Regions from separate parts of the Homo sapiens genome. Here region 1 is linked to region 2. Evidence: fine-mapped expression QTL. A gene starts in region 2. The other region holds a variant in brackets. All regions are shown on one strand. Distances are from middle to middle.

Region 1 (4,268 bases), 160 kb before region 2:
TGTCATTGTAACTAAGTACTTACCTGTTTGTATTCCAGTTGAATATGTTTTTTTTTTCCCCCCAAGATGGAGTCTCAGTCTCTTGCCCAGGCTGGAGTGCAGTGGCGTGATCTTGGCTCACTGCAACCTCTGCCCCGAGTTCAAGTGATTCTCCTGCCTCAGCCTCCTGAGTAGCTGGGACTACCTGCGCATGGAAGCACGCCTGGCTAATTCTATATTCATATATGTGTGTGTGTATATATATATATGTGTGTATATATATATATATATATATATATATATATATTTTTTTTTTTTTTTTTTTTTTTTTTTTTTTGAGATGGAGTCTTGCTCTATCGCCCAGGCTGGAGTGCAGTGGCGTGATCTCAGCTCAGTGCAATCTCCACCTCCTGGGTTTTAAGCAGTTCTCTCTGCCTCAGTCTCCCAGGTGGCTGGGATTACAGGCGCCTGCCACCATGCCCGGCTAATTTTGTATTATTATTATTATTTTTTGTGGTGGAGTTTCGCTCTTGTTGCCCAGGCTGGAGTGCAATGGTGCAATCTCGGCTCTTTCCAACCTCCGCCTCCCGGGTTCAAGCGATTCTCCTACTTCAGTCTCCCAAAAGTGCTGGGATTACAGGCTTATGCCACTGCGCCCAGCTTAATTTTTGTATTTTTAGTAGAGACGGGGTTTCACCATGTTGGCCAGGCTGGTCTTGAACTTCTGACCTCAGGTGATCCACCTGCCTTCGGCCTCCCAAAGTGCTGGGATTACAGGCGTGAGCCACTGTGCTGCCTGGCCTTTTTAAAAAATACTTTTAGGCCGGGCGTGGTGGCTCATGCCTGTAATCCCGCACTTTGGGAGGCCGAGGTGGGTGGATCACGAGGTCAAGAGATCGAGACCATCCTGGCCAGTATGGTGAAACCCCGTCTGTACTAAAAATATACAAATTAGCTGGGTGTGGTGGCGCGTGCCCGTAGTCCCAGCTACTTGGGAGACTGAGGCAGGAGAATCGCTTGAACCCAGGTGGGGGAGGTTGCAGTGAGCCGAGATCGCACCATTGCTGGGATTATAGGCGTGAGCCACTGCACCCAGCCTGACTATGTATTTTTGTTGAATTAGTATCTTTCAGTGTTTTTGTGCCATTATTTTATTTTATTTGTTTATTTATTTTGAGACGGACTCTTGCTCTGTCGCCCAGGCTGGAGTGCAATGGTGCAATCTCGGCTCACTGCAACCTCTGCCCAGCCCCAGGTTGAAGCGATTCTCCTGCCTCAGCCTCCTGAGTAGCTGGGATTACAGGCATGCGCCACCACGCCCAGCTAATTTTTGTATTTTTAGTAGAGATGGGGTTTCACCATGTTGGCCAGGCTGATCTCCAACTCCTGACCTCATGTGATCCACCTGCCTCAGCCTCCCAAAGTGCTGGTATTACAGGCATGAGCCACCTCTCACCCGGCCCTGTACGATTATTTTATATGGACTCCTATTTCCAAAAACCTGCTTTAACTACTTTTATGAGCAATACAGGTAACTGGTGAGCGAATGAGACTTTTTATAAGGGTTAGGCCCTTGGTCTATAAGAAAAGCAGACTGACTTGACCTTGTTCTTAAAGTACATCAGTTTTCTCAGCTGTCAAATGAGGATAACAGGACCATTTTGGCTTGTTGGGTGGTTGTGATGCATGACTACTAATGAAAATAATTGTAAAACACTTTTGCAAGTTAAAGTGTGATATAAATGCTAAATAATAGTTCTTTATTGGGATGTTGTGAAAATAAGCAACATGCTTTTTATTGAGAGGCCTTAAATTCCTTTTGAGGAGGCAATATATTTTTATAAGTACTATTAGATCACTTTAGAATGTTCATATTATTAGAGTTTTGGCCAGGCGCAGTGGCTTACACCTGTAATCCCGCACTTTGGGAGGCCGAGGTGGGTGGATCACGAGGTCAAGAGATCGAGACCATCCTGGCCAATATGGTGAAACCCCGTTTGTACTAAAAATATAAAAATTAGCTGGGTGTGGTGGCGCGTGCCTGTAGTCCCAGCTACTTGGGAGACTGAGGCAGGAGAATCGCTTGAACCCAGGTGGGGGAGGTTGCAGTGAGCCGAGATTGCACTGTTGCACTCCAGCCTGGCAACAGAGCGAGAGTCCATCTCAAAAAAAA[A/T]AAAATAAAATAAAAAGAGTTTTACCAGACTGGGTGCAGTGGCTCACTCCTGTAATCCCAGCACTTTGGAGGCTGAGGCAGGTGGATCATTTAAGGTCGTCAGGAGTTTGAAACCAGCCTGGCCAACATGGTGAAAACCCATCTCTACTAAAAATATTTTAAAAAATTAGCTGGGCGTGGTGGCAGGCGCCTGTAATTCCCGCTACTCGGGAGGCCAAGGCACGAGAATTGCTTGAACCCAGGAGGCAGAGGTTGCAGTTATCCGAGATCTTGCCACTGCACTCCAGCCTGGGTGACAGAGCGAGACTTCGCCTCAAAAAAAAAAAAAAAGTTTTACCATTTTTGCTTTTTGGTTCAGATGAGGAATGAATTCCACCTTATGGTACTTGCATTGCTGAATGTTTAAAGGCCTGATGGGAGTGACTTATTGTGTCTATATTTATAGCATCACAGCCAATCAATAGAAACACTCACACACAAAAGACACTGAAAAAACATTTTAACTTGCTATAGGTAACACCTTAAAGACATTTTAATGCAGGATTAGGTGATTGTTGCAGTTAGGCTTTGAAGAGTGACATGGTACCATTTTAGACAAAACTAACACTCCTTGTTCCATACCAGAGTCTAAATATAGAATCAGTGGCATCATTACCTGTAATGTACTTAGGAACTACATTGAAATTTGAATCTGTTGAACTAAATTTTTCTCAGCCTTTTAAGTGACATTAACAATAGAGGAAAATTGGGATGTTGTCTAAAAGCCAAAAAGGGAAAACTGAAATGGTTATGGGATAGTCTGCTGACGTGCTGGGAACTTTACCCTGACACCTCACCTGGGATCGTATATATTGTTTTTAGTATAGGGACCTGTGTGTTGCTAATTTTAGAACAAAGTAACATGAAGTTTTTTTAGCTTTATGCAGGTTGGACTGGAATCTTTTTTTCTGGAATTTGAGTTCTTTCACAATCCATTTACCTTTTTGTATCAAGGACAAGTGAAAGGCTTAGGTTTCTTTTCCTCTTTGATGGGAAGACTGTACTTGCTTTTGCTGGACTCAGGCATTATCTGCTTTTGCATTTGCATTTGGTGACTGCTAAAAGGGTCCTTGAATGACATGCTTTCACAGCAAAGACAGTTGAGTAATTTTATTTTCTTAGAGACGTTTTATTTCTGTGGTTGTAGTAAGACTCCCTGTTATTTGCTTTCATCATCAGCTTTGTTCATTCTAGGCTTAGGGATTGGCTTCAACTGTTTTACATTCATAGGCAAAGGTTCATTTTATATTCATATTTTAGTTCTCTTGGATTTAATTTGTAGCTTATATGTATCCATTATATTGAATAGTTTCCTTCCTAGATTAGGTATTTCATAAAACTTCTAAATATTTTTAGGAATGTATTACTTATGCTTGACATCTTTATCATTATTTTTTTCATTCAAAATAGCCCAAGTTTCTCTGGAAGCTTGCAGTTGGCAGTACTATCAAGACAAAATGCCTTTAGGACTGTATGGAGAAGGCACTTTCCACCACTACCTAACAAAATGGAATATATATATAATTTTTGACTTTATGTATTTCTTCTGTGATTTACTATCTCATATTCTTTGAATATTTTCCCCTTTGGTTATTTGTCTTCCTCTTATTTAGTTATAAGAGTTCTTTGTATATTGTGGCATTCAACTCTTTTTTATGTGATGTTAGTATTCCTTAAGGCTATGAATAAGAAGTGAGAAGGGAGGCTATTGCATTGAATGCTAATCCCAGATGGTGTTTGGTTAAATTGTTTTATTGTTTGCCTTGATTATTTGAGCAATGGTAAGCTTCTTTTGTCTCTTCCTTTCCAAAGATGCATAGAAAAGCTCCTTCTGTCTGAAGTAAAGTGTTGGCTCTGTGTTGGTTATAATTTGCTTTTTCTGGCTTGCACAGCCTTCTTTTTGTTTTCTGTCTTCTGACAGATTATAGGATTGTGGGGAAACAGCGTCCAGGGCTTTTTCAGGAACCGTGCCATTTTATCTACAGGAGAAGCCATTGGCTTTGGCACTAGAAGGGAATTGGCTGTGCATTTAAAGATGCCAAATCATGCTCGATTCACAAGTTTGCTGTCTCATTTT
Region 2 (4,268 bases):
ACAGAGGAATATGAGAACAAAGTATCCATTGGATTTGGCAACATAGAAGTCACTGGTGACCTTGATAAGAGCAACTTCAATGGAGTGGGCAAAGTAGATGTGGTGGCACTTGATTACTAGAAGCTGCCTCAGGAGGACTGCTTGAGCTCAGGAGTTCCAGGTGGCAGTGAGCTATGATGGGGCCACTGCACTCCAACCTGGGCAACAGAGCAAGACCCTGTCTCCACAAAAAAAAAAAAAAAAATGGAGTGGGCAGAAGAGAAGCCAGATTGGTATAAAATGAAGAGTGAATGAAAGTTGAGAAAGCTGAGTTGGTACAGGTAGAAATCTATGAATGGAAATTTAAAAAATTGGCATGGTAATTGGAGAGGGATGTGAAGGATACCAGAACATAATTTGTATGCTGATGGGAACAGTTTCAGGGAGAGACAGGATTTGGTGACTGATTTTATTGGGAAATAGTGGACAGGAAGGAAGACAAGGATTACAGGCAGGACTGATGGTAGTGCCATTTATTAAGGTCAAGAATATAGAATCAGGGCAAACGTATTTGCCTACAAAGATCATGTTTCCACCACACTAGGTAGGCTTTCAGAGGAAGAACTGTAAAATTTGACTAAGCCTCTCCAGACGGTACCACTTTCTGATGTAATTAATCTCCTGATGAAGTTAAAACCTCCTAGAGTTGCAAGGCTATGCTAATCCAATCTAGCAGCCACACAAGCCAAGTGAATAAAAATGTACTTGTACTGGTGAAAGGGACATTACTCGTAAAAAAGGGCTCTAAATTCACAGCTGATGGAAGAGCAGTTATGTTTCTGTAATCAAAACACTGAAGACTTACAAACTGGTAACTTCCAGATAAACAGTGGAACCAGACATTTTTCCGAAGAAATTAATCAAATTCAATATTGTTTACACTCCCTAATGCTCATTAATGATGTAGCTTCATACACCCTTGTTACTTTTGATATTACAGTGAATTTCCACGGAAGTATTTTCAGAGATCTTAGCCCTCTGAAATAAGTATCAGTTCTTGCAACAACCCAGGAAAATTAACTTCTCCAGCTGGTTCAAAGGAGTGCCTGAGGAGAAAGGTAGAAACTAGAAGATGGAGTTTTGACTTAATAACTAATTTTGATGTTCATGATAGGCCTCTGGCAAACGTTTGAGGAAATGAATCTATAGAGAATGGACGGGCTTTAGGACTTCTACAAGACCTTCGATCTTTAGAAAGGGATGAAGGATGCAACCATCTACAAAAAGTTCTATTTGTATTATTCAGCAATATGTAAAGAGCTGGAATTTGGCATCGCCCTCTAGCCTGATGGCCGAGCTGCTGAAAGCTCCACAGGATTCATATCCCCAGAACAAACAACTCGATCACCTGATCCTGGCTCAGAAGCCCCAGGTCCCTTCCATCCCCAATCCTTTTGCGTGGCCCAGTTTTAAAAACCTGCGGAGAGAAGGACGGGATGCCAGGAAGCCTGTTGATTCAACGTGCCACCCGATTCACGGGTTCCGGGTGTCACTGGGCTGGGAAAAGCTTTCGGACTCTGAGCAACTACAGCGCTTTCCTCCCCCTTCCCCCCATAGAGCAGGGAAGGCCAGGCTCCCCCTTCTTCCCGCATACGGCTCCCCACTGCCTCTTCCCTTACGTGACCAGGCCCTAGGAGCCCGGTTCCCCACCTGACTCCTGCGAGAAACACGCTCTCCAGTCGGAACTTTACCTGTCTGAAGCCCGCCGCTCCTCCAGTGCGCTAAGCCCCCACCGAGGAAAATGGAGTCGTCGAACCGAGACTGGGAAAAGATAGTACGGACCCACCGCACGGCCCCTCCGCCGCCACCGCCGCCGCTGCTGCGTCAACGTGCTACGTCATTTCCGGCTCCCTGTCACCGGGAGTGGGCGGGCCATTTCTTGTTCTCTCTCCCGCTCTCGGAAGCTTTCGTCTCGTGGGTGCGAAAGGTAACCGAAGCGGCTCAGGAAGGCAGCTGTCACTGAGCCCCTGGAACAGAGCGAGAGTATCGTAAGTAACCAGGCTCAGCCGGTTTCTCAGGCCGCTCTAGTCAAATAAACCATAAAGATCAGACTCGGGCTTCTTCACTTCCTTCTCTCCGTGGTTTCGCCATTAGCTTCCGGTTCCGGGGAGGGGCCGAGTTTTCTTCGAAGATTTGGGGCTCCGCGATACAGTTAGGATGGCTGTAGTACCTCTGCTGTTGTTGGGGGGTTTGTGGAGCGCTGTGGGAGCGTCCAGCCTGGGTGTCGTTACTTGCGGCTCCGTGGTGAAGCTACTCAATACGCGCCACAACGTCCGACTGCACTCACACGACGTGCGCTATGGGTCAGGTAATGCTGGGGACCGGGCTCGGGTGGGCTAGGGAGGACTCGGAGGCTCTGGAGGGGCGGGGCCTATAGAATATCTGACAGTGTGGTCTGGGAAAGTTAGGGGTTCCCTGGGAAGGTTCCTCAGGTCTAGAGAGTCGGAGAACTGAATTGTTCTAAGGCATCTTAATCGCAACACCACCTAATATTTGGTGAGCTACAGGCCAGGCACGTTACCTATGTCCTTTTTCCGATTATTAACATTGTTGTAAGGTGGACAGTATTGTTATCCTCATTTCACAGATGAGGAAACAGACGCAGAGAAATTAAATCGTTTATTCAAAGCCTTGCAGTTAGCAAATGACAAAGTCGGGGTTCTATCCAAATCTATCCAGGTTCAAAGCCTGCTTTAGAGACAAGAAAATTACAGTAAGTGCTGTGTCTGAAATTTTAAAGTTACAGTAAGTACTGTCTGTGAAACTTTAAACTCCAAGAGCTCACTCGTTGACTACAACCCTTTGTCTTCCAGCTCTTCTGCATCTTACACTTGCTCCTCAGTTTCCATCTTTGGCCCCCTTCTACCCAAACCTTAACCTCCTTCTTGTAAGAAACTTGGAGCAGTGACAGGAATTGCAGAGAAAACTGCTTTTTTTTTTTTTTTTTTTTAGCGTTTGAAATTAAAATGTTTAGTAATAAATTATTTGTGGATTCATTCAGCATAGGTCTTAATGAGTTCCTACTACATGGCTAGAATTGTACTACATACAGGAGATTCGGTGGTGATAATCAGTCAAGAAAATTACAATATAATAAAAACAGACTAAAAAAAGAAAGTCTTATCTGCCTGAAAAAAAAAGATAAAGTTAAAAAAAAAGAATGAAGGTCAGCTAGTGAGATGTGAGAGGCATCTAAGATAGCTGGTAGATTTTTGTCTTGAATGACTGATGATGCTGTTTGCTGAGGGAGGAAAGAGTTCTGTCAGGTGGGCTAGTCTGGTTCATGATTCCCAAAACCCATCTGATCAGTCAGACTAGGCAAGGACATGAGTTATCATCACTGCGATGTCTTAATAATTCTAGCACCCATTCAGTGAACACCTACCATGTTGTCAGGCTTATTTTTTACTTTGTTTTGGTTTCCTACTTTGGATCTACTGAATTAGAGTGGAGGTGGACAGAGGCTTGGCAGTAGCAATCTGTAGGTTTAAAAAGCTCTTCAGGTGGTTCTGATGGACAGCCAGATTTGGGAACCAGGTTCAGTCCGGAGCTCAGAAAAGGGATCTGTGCTGAGCCTGAGATACAACATTAAATATAACATCTTGTACAGACTGTGGTTGAAGATGTCAGGGTTGTAGATGAAATTGCCCAGAATGAACTGTGATTCTCTATCTGGGATTAATTTGAATAACTGGAGAAACTTGTTAAAAATACAAATGCTTTTGTCCTGACCCTCAACAATTGTTTAAGAACTACAGGTAGCCCTCTCCGTCTCCCTCTCTTGTCTCTTCTCTCTTTCCACGGTCTCCCTCTGTTGCCGAGGCTGGACTGTACTGCCGTGATCTCGGCTCGCTGCAACCTCCCTGCCTGGGGCTCCCGTGATTCTCCTGCCACGGCCTGCCGAGTGCCTGGGATTGCAGGCACACGCCGCCATGCCTGACTGGTTTTCGTATTTTTGGTGGAGACGGGGTTTCGCCGTGTTGGCTGGGCTGGTCTCCAGCTCCTGACCTCGAGTGATCTGCCTGCCTCAGCCTCCCGAGGTGCTGGGATTGCAGATGGAGTCTTGCTCACTCAGTGCTCAGTGTTGCCCAGGCTGGAGTGCAGTGGTGTGATCTTGGCTCACTACAACTTCCACCTCCCAGCCGCCTGCCTTGGCCTCCCAAAGTGCTAAGAGTACAGCCTCTGCCCGGCCGCCACCCCGTCTAGGAAGTGAGGAGCGTCTCTGCCTG

The links.
Region 1: its variant is fine-mapped to the expression of SUPT6H in whole blood (TOPMed, PIP above 0.99). The same link has a PIP of 0.9 or more in blood mononuclear cells.

The regions. Positions count from the first base shown.
Region 1 is chr17:28,818,851-28,823,118 of GRCh38, reverse strand. The region is part of intron 1 of FAM222B (family with sequence similarity 222 member B); the gene reads left to right. Among named protein-coding and RNA genes, the nearest start is that of FAM222B, 22 kb to the left of the region's middle. RefSeq lists enhancers at 181-680, 681-1,182. The variant A/T (reference allele first, on the strand shown) is at 2,153.
Region 2 is chr17:28,659,805-28,664,072 of GRCh38, reverse strand. SUPT6H (SPT6 homolog, histone chaperone and transcription elongation factor) reads right to left here and starts at 1,868. Exons shown (of 37, transcript NM_003170.5): 1 at 1,731-1,868. It overlaps SDF2 (stromal cell derived factor 2), which reads left to right and starts at 2,167. Exons shown (of 3, transcript NM_006923.4): 1 at 2,167-2,347. The coding sequence starts at 2,197. RefSeq lists enhancers at 1,078-1,752, 1,850-1,919, 1,281-2,480.